Linked DNA regions of Homo sapiens. The protein of the gene in region 2 interacts with the protein of the main gene of each other region in a pairwise test. Each region holds a gene or a part of one and is shown on either strand. Other genes may lie near its edges.

What was found. Proteins that work in one complex are often made in the same cells at the same time.
Region 1: the proteins of MSANTD3 (region 2) and VSTM2A interact in a two-hybrid assay, tested with the Homo sapiens proteins (one large-scale study listed by BioGRID and IntAct).

The regions. Positions count from the first base shown.
Region 1 is NC_000007.14:54,540,876-54,545,174, reverse strand, and holds the start of VSTM2A (V-set and transmembrane domain-containing protein 2A isoform 2 precursor), read right to left. Parts: upstream 2,801-4,299; 5' UTR 2,445-2,800; coding exon 2,366-2,444; intron 554-2,365; coding exon 387-553; intron 1-386. UniProt on the Homo sapiens protein: Plays a role in the regulation of the early stage of white and brown preadipocyte cell differentiation. Promotes adipogenic commitment of preadipocytes by increasing gene expression of the transcription factor PPARG in a BMP4-dependent signaling pathway.
Region 2 is NC_000009.12:100,425,907-100,429,942, forward strand, and holds the start of MSANTD3 (myb/SANT-like DNA-binding domain-containing protein 3), read left to right. Parts: upstream 1-1,236; 5' UTR 1,237-1,487; intron 1,488-1,522; exon of another isoform or gene 1,523-1,664; intron 1,665-3,707; exon of another isoform or gene 3,708-3,756; intron 3,757-4,036.

The sequences.
Region 1 (4,299 bases), on a different chromosome or scaffold from region 2:
AGAGGGGGTGGGGTGGGGGGTGGAGGCCGCCCACCGATTCCCCTCCCCCTCCTTTCGTCCTGGAAAGGGGCTCCCGGATGTCCCGGGATGTGGCAGCGTGGTAGGGGCAAGGCGGGCATCTGCCTAAGTACCAGAACTTACAGGAGGAGGCGCTTCCCGGTTTAACAGGAAGAAACTGGGCAGCAGGACTTCCTTCTGGGTTTTAACTTCGCGTCCCCAGGACAAATTCCCTTTCCCTCCCTAGAAGCCCTGGGGGTCACTCGCTTCCACAGAACCGGGCAGGTCCCCAGGGGTGTCCAGGCAGCACCTCGGCCCCCAGCCCCGGGCCGGACACCCTGAGGACCGGGCGAGCGAAGGGGAGACGCGGGGTCGGCGGGCTCCGCTACCTGCGCGCCGGCCCCCTCGGCCCCGGGATCCAGGTCCTCCGGCCCCCGCAGGAACCACCATTGGATCTCCAGATACACCGAGGCGGAGCCGCTCTGGAAGGCGCAGGACATCTCCACATTCTGCCCCTCGGTCGCCGTCACGTTCCGCGGAAACTCGGTAAATTTTGCTGCAAAACAGAAAGGCATCCTGTTGGAATATCCACACCCCTCTTGCCTGAGTCTCTTTCCTTGAGAGCTCGCTACATTTTTCCTGGACTTAAATAGCAACAAAACCCCTCTCTTACATCCTCGGCTTCGTCTGGTTCCCCCAGCCCCCTTCCTTTGCCTCTTTCCTGTCTAACTTTTGGTATCATACCTAAATCACTATGTTGTTGATCAAATCCAGATAATGGAAAGGTTAACAAGCTTGCCAATAACTCTTAGCCAAGATCCCCGCAGGTAGATCCAAATACCTTTTGTCAGATTGCAGTATTCCACAACATTTACTGAGAGAGTCAGTGAGATACAATTTAGGCAATCTGTCAAGTTGATAAATGAGGAGAGTCTCTTGCCTCTAAGTTTCTAAACAATCTACCACTAACTGGATGTTTCATGTAACAGAGTAGATCATGATTATCTGTCAAAATGCACATTCCTGATACATCAAAACGGTTATTAGCAACACCAGTGAAACACGCCTGCAGCAGTGAAACAAGTTGCACACTTTATAAACTGTATATGTTTCCTTCTCTCCAAATTAACCTTTATTTGTTCCCATCAAGTCACTGTATTTTGAATTGCCATACATCTTAAGATGTAATGATCACACATCCAGGCTTAGTTCAGATTAAATATTATTTAGAAGTCACTATGGAGATGTTTCTCAGCCTTTTCATTACCAACCTTGACACTGCTAGTTTGCAAGATTCATGCAACCCTGGTGAAACTCACAAAAATATAATGTTTCCTTCCTCCTAAAGGCATTTCTTGAACATGCAATGCTCTTATCTTGTTACCAACGTGGTTGTTCTTATCTTATCTAAGGGGCACTTTGCAAAGAGCTGATGGTTCCCTAAAAGCAGTCCTGGGAAGATTTGTATGGCCAGTGGAAATGCACAACCACAATGCACACTTATGGAGAAGAGGGCCATGGGGAATGCAGAAATGATTTGGGGTGGATGCACTCCTCCCCCCACCCCTCACCTCACCCCCGGTTTAAAGAGAGACACTGTCTCTTTTCAACATTTTATGAAATCCCAAAAATGATCTCTAGTGAAATGAAACTATATTTGTACCTAAAACAGGGAAGCTATTAAGGAGACATTCTGATCGGAAAAGGGCTTTTCTATTCTAGCTGGCAGAAGGAGTATGGCATTTCTGCTTGCAGAAGTGATGCAGTCTTTTGGCACCAGAGATGTGATCTGTTCATGGTGCTGAAACGACCACTGCAGCCTACGAAGTCCTGAACAATCGGGTTCAGCAGGCTGCTGCTGCTTGTCATGCAAGTTGTGGCTTTTTATGGGTCCTCAGAGGAGTCTGTCCTTTGATAAACACACATACAAAAGGAGTCACACGGACCTACAAAAGGGAAACTCTAAGCCCAGTCTGACTACACAAGGAAGAGGGACTGGCAATGGAGAGTCCCAGTATCCAGCCCTGTGTTTGTTTGCGATGATTATGTATGCATGAGTGGCTACCCTGTGCATGCACACAGATAGAAAGCACACACACACCCACACACACACACCACACGACCCTGTGTTTGTGCTCACCGAGGAGCCCACCTCATTGTCAGGCACCAGCTAGATTTTCTCTCCAGCCTAGCTAGTCTACAGTTTAATAAACTTTAAAAAAAATCGTCAAACAGAACACTATTTATACAGCCTAAGCCCACTGTTACTTGCTAGGAAGCTTATTCTATCTGCCTGTCCATTCTTTTTGAGTGTAGGAAACACACACACACGCAAGCAAATGTATATTTGCCATTGAGCAAGACTTACCTTGAGAAGAAAGCCCTTGTTGTACATATAAAACGGAAAAGAAAACAAATCCAACATACACCAAAAAGATCCCCATCATTCCAAAAAGGGAGGGGGGTCACATCAGTGTAGCCAACAGCCGAAAAGCCCTGAAAGAAAGGCGTGCGAGTGGATGGCAGGCTCAGTCTCAGAGCCCTGGGCGCGACACTGCAAACATCCTGCTGCTTGCTTGGCGAGGGCTGGCTGTGGGGAGAAGGGATTGCGATTCTGGAAGGTTAGAACCAGCTGGCTGGGATTCAGCGAGGCTTCCTGCGGAGCCCAGGCTGGAATCGCTGGGAAGTGTCTCGGCTGCCTGGCTGCCTGCTTTCAGCTACCTGGCAGCTCGTCCAACGTCAGCCCGCCGCTCCGGCTTGCGTGATCACTGCCCTCCCTAAACACGGAGCCGGCTCGGGAAGTGGGGAGTGGGCAAGCGGGGCGGGCTGAGGACTTCGCCGGGCTCGCGGCGCCGCAACTTTTCCCTCTAATGGCTGCGATGATGCCTTTAACTCTGTGCGCGCTGGACAGCGCCCCGCCCGGGAGCTCGCGCCGGGCGGCCGCGGAGGGCGCAGGGCTCGTCGGCGCCGCTGGGGTCTCCCTTCTGGAGAGCAGGGACGTCGGTTTTTTTCCACTTTGCTTCTCTCCCCCATCGGGTGTCTTTCTGGCTCGGCGGATCAGATCGCTCGGTGCCGAGGAGGACAATACAGTGACGGGATTGCGGCGCTGGCGGGGGGCTCGGAGCAAAAGGTTCCGGGAGGGAGTTGGGGCATTGCTGAGGACCGGGGAGCAATGGGATGGGGGAGAGACGGGTGGGCCGAGGAAAACAGCCATTTAGGGAAATGCCGCTTACCCAGTTATTAACTGCTCCAACCAGGAGCATCACATGCTACGATTTCACACGAATTTCTTGCTGAACAGCTTTCAGTACAAGCAGCTCATGCAGGAGCCATATCGCTCCAGCTGGCAGACGGAGAAGAGAAAAAGTACAAAAAGTCACGCATTGAGGGAATTTTCTGGAAAGAAAAGCCCACCATACTATGTTTACTTTTTAAAAAATTACATACCTCCTGCCTTCTTTTCCTTCATCTTCCATGTATTTTGGAGGGGGGAGGGGTTTTAAATACCGTTAAGGTCTTCATTACGTGATTTTGTTTTGTTTATTTGCTTTTCTTTTGCATAGCACAATACTTATGTAATGTTCCCTGGGACTAAGTGAATAAGGAATCTTATTTTAGACACAAAAAATCACAATAAGTTTCAGAATGTGGAACAAATCTACTTATCTGCCTTGGTGAAGATTTGAGATGTACATTCTATTTTTAATTAAGAACTGAAACAACAATGTATATTATGTTAAAGACTCTATCTGACCTTATGCAATCCAACTATTAGTGGATTTAAATTTTTTTTAACAAAATTAATAGCATTTGCCATCTAAGAAGAGCACACATTTTTTATTCCCATTATTATTTCTATGCAACTATGCCACAAATTTTCAGTATTAGTTTGAAATATGAATTAGTCTTAATAATGCTATCAGGAAGCCAATGTAGGGTATGTATTTTCATTTTACAGATAAAGAATTTGTAGTTGGCTAATGCCTTTACTAGCCAGAAAAAAAATTAACCTTAACATAGCGGTTGCATTTTAAATCACTTATCTTCTATTGCTGAATGCAGCAATAACTTAAAGCTCAGAAAACTAAAGACACAATAACGTCATCACAATATTATTTATTTTCTGAAAGTATATTTATTTTTTACTGTGAGTAGGGGCAGAATATGGGATTTGGAGACAATCATGGGAGATATTTTATATCTGTTCATGTTTAGGCCAACCAGACTCTGTATCCTCCTTGTATTTAGCAAAGGATTTTGAAGTTTATCGTTCTAAGAAAGGAAATCACTTTATGTTCAAAC
Region 2 (4,036 bases):
TTGGTGATGGGAATGTAAAATGATTCATTCAGCTGCTGTGGAAAACTTTTTGGCAGTTCCTGGAAAAGTTAAACATAGAATTACCCTATGACCCAGAAAGTCCACTCCTAGGTATGTATCCAAAAGAACTGGGAACAGGTACTCAAATATGTGTACAGGCATGTTCAGAGCAGCACTATTCACAATAGCCAAAAGGTGGAAGTAACCCAAATATCTATCAAGGGATGAATGAATAAACAAATTATAATATACACATACAATGGGATATTAATCAGCCATAAAAAGGAATGAAGTACTGATCCACGCCTCAACATGGATGAATCTTAAATACAGGCTAAGTCAAAGAAACGACACAAAAGGCCGCATATTGTATGGTTGCATTTATATGAAATACCCAGAAAAAAGTAAACTCACAGAGATAGAAAATAGCTGAGTCGTTGCCAGGGTCTGGAGGAAGGAGGGACTGGGGAATTACTGCTTAATGGAGTATGGATGTTTCAGAACTAGATAGAAGTGGTTGCTCAACATTATGAATGTAATAAATGCCACCAAATCGTTCGCTTTTAAGTGGTTTATGTTATGCGAATTTCACCTCAAAAAAAAAAAAAGTTAAAAAGCCTTCTCTGCCTTTCTCTGGGGTTGGAGTCTTCCCAATGGATCCAGGGCAAAAGAAACATCCAGCCACTCTGTTTGCGGGAGGAGCAAAGGGTGGCTTGTCCCGACAGTTTGAGCTGTTGTGCATGCATTTACACACGCATTAATTCCAAATGAGTCAGCACAGTGTCCGAGACAGGTCCTGGGCTCCAGTGAGCACAGTCGCTCTCCTGGGGGAGGCACGTTCCACAAATTAACAGAAGTTCTGATAAACTCAGCATAGGGGGATTCGCTGTCCCAAGTATCAAGGAGTCCTAAAAGAAAAGGGCCTATTTCAGTCGGGGGACCTGGACTGAACTAACTCGTGTTCATGGCCGCCAAATCCCGTGTGACAAATGTATTCTTTTGTTGTTCATAGAAATAAAACAGTTTTTCGGGCCGCTTCAGGAGCTCCTCTGCAAAGGTGGGGAAAAAAGGCAACTAAATCAGCACGAGGACGTCAGCCCGAGGATGTCAGGAGCGGGGTCGGTGCGGACGGGCAGGTGGGCGGGGGGGCACCCCGCGCCCCGCCCCAGTCCCCTGGAGGCCGGCGGCCGCAGCTCGGGGAAGTGGGGACTGGCGCGGGGCCGCGCTCCCGCCCTCCTCGGCGGCGCCGACGGACCGGCAGGCGGCGGGCGGTCCGCGAGGGGGCGGCGGCGTCCGGGCTTTGTGGCCGCGGCGCGCGCGGCGGGGCCTGGCCGGCCGGGGGCGCGCCGCCGCCGCCGCCGCCGCCCGGCGTTCGGGAGCCCGCGGCCCTCCCGGCCGCCCTGCTTGCGAGAGGAGCCCAGGCCGCCCGCCCTCGCGCCTCGCCGGCCCCTCCCCCGGTCGCCGCGGCTGCCGCGCCGCCGCTGCAGGTAGGAGGCTCCCCTTCCGGGCGGGCCGCAGCCGGGCGGGGGCGGGGGTGGGGGGCGCGGGCCGGGCGTAGAGGGGGCCGGGGGCCGGCATGGAGGGTTTTCGGGCCGAGCCGCTGCGACCCCGGCCTTGCAGGCTGGGCGCCGGGCGGCCGCCTCTGCGCGCCGCGATGGGACTCGGTGAGTAGGGCCGGCCTGCTGCCTACAAAGCCCCGGGGCGCGGGCCTCTGGGGTACTCAGTGGCGCGCCCACGGCTGGGAGCGGGGTGGGCTTTGGACTCCCGGGCTCGGGGAGCTGCTCGGGGGGAATCCAGGTGACCTGCAGTACCGCGGTCTTCCCATCCCGGCGTCCCCACTGTGTGCTGATCACTGTGCTCGGCGCTTTTCCATACTTGTCTCCTTTAAGACCTCCAGTGCCCCGCCCGTCCAGAGTGTAACGGGAGGGATCCCTCACTTGCAGGATGAAGGCCGAGCATCACATCCTTGCTTGACTGACCTTGGGAAAGCTCCTTTACTCCGAGCCGGGGCTACTGTTTCTGTAAATTAGAGGCGGGGGTCGGGGGGGCGTGGTATAATATCTACCCTCAGGTACTATTGTGAAAGATAATGTATGTAAATGATAACAGCTAAATTTTGAGCACTCTGTATGTACCAGGCCCTAGGTACTAAACAGTTGGCATGAATTATCATTGAATCATCACCCTGGCGCTGTGAGGTAGTTACTGTAAATTGCATGAATAATCTTTATTTAGGAGTACGAAACAGTGAAGAATTTAGTCTCCCTATTCCGATTCAGGAGGTTGGGTATTTCTTAGGCGTGATAACATTTAACATTACAGACGTTCCTGCAGTATCGAGGAGAGTAGTTATAGGATGCAGGGATATATTTGTCATACATTTAAAACTGGAGGTAGGATAATATCAGGGCCAGAGAGTGTGCCTTTCAGCATGTCAGAGCAGATGATTGTATTCCAAGGAAATTGCTGAATATTAATTAAAAAACATAGTTTCTGAGTTAGGATTGAGGATGGCTGTGGGAGTCCAGGGCCAGAGAGAGACATGGGATGGACAAGGGGGAGAAGAAGGATTCTGAAGTCCTGGAGGAAGATGTAGAGGAAGGCACCAGGGTTCACCATCCCTCCCCTGCAGCATTGCTGGGCCAGATTTCATCCCTCCCGTAGAGACCCGGGCTAGGGGACAAAGGCTGCTGGGGCAGGGGGTGGGGAGGGATGTTATAGGTTGTCTCTTTTTACTCCCAGGCCGCCAAAAATATTCAGATTGATGGAGGGTCAGGTGATTGGGCCTCCTAAAATGCCATTATCCCTTCTCACAAAATTCTTGTGTTTCAGGGCATGGGGATGCTTGCCAGCCCTAATGGTTGATGAGATGCTTAAAATACAAAGGTCTCACTGATATAATGGAAGAGTGCATTTTCAACACCATTCACTGGGTTAGAGAAGTAATGGGCCTGAGGAGATTATTTTGGGTTTAGAATGGGGAGAACTAAAAAGGCTTTGGATCCTGAAGAAGGAAGAGAGGCAGGAAGGGCCCAGGCACTGCACCTGTGGGGAAAGGCAGGAGAAGAAGGAGCTGAGGACTTCACCCCACCATCTGCAGAATACCCAACAGGCTGTTCAGTTCTCAGCTACCAAGGGGGCACCCTTTCCTCTCCCAGTTGGTGATGATTTGTTAACGTATTGTGGAAGATCAAGGGCTGGACTCAGGCACTCCTGTCCTGAGTGAGTAGGAAAGACGTCTGGGAGAAGGGTGGTTTATTTTGTTTTTAACCAGGCATTGAAGCAGAGAGTAGGTGGGTACGTAGCGATGGTGAAGGTAGGGAACATCATGCATACTTGGAAGAGCAATTGCTTTGGAGAGATAGACAGTTTGGGGTTTGAATCCTAGCTCTGCCATTTCTTAGCTTTGTACATTTTTTGTGAGGATAAAATAATGTTTTTTCACATATCTGGCGTGCAGTTCAACAAGCACTAGTACCGTATTCCCTGTCCGTGATAACATTCATTCAACAAATGTCTGCTGAGCACCAGTCATGTGCTGAGTCATATGTTACATCCTGGGGATACAGCGATGAGTCAGAAATTATGTATTCCCCTAGGAATTTCCCAGTCCAGTGTGGGAGATGGACGCAAAGAGCAAATTGCAAAAAATATGGGAAGTGCTACAGTACAGTCATGTACAACTGTCAGTGAGCTCATAGAAGAGTAACTCATTCTGAGCCAGTGGGAACTCAGGGCCAATCTATATCTAACAAGGTGAGTATGAGACCTTATGACACAGGTTTTTGTTTTTTGTTTTTGTTTTTTTTTTGGGGGGGGACAGTCTCGCTCTGTTGCCCAGGCTGGAGTGCAGTGGCATGATCTCGGCTCACTGCAGTCTCCACCTCTTGGGTTCAAGCGATTCTCTTGTCTCAGCCTCCCAAGTAGCTGAGATTACAGGCACCTACCACCACGCCCAGCTAATTTTTGTAGTTTTAGTAGAGGTGGGGTTTCACCATGTTGGCCAGGCTGGTCTCAAACTCCTGACCTCAGGTGA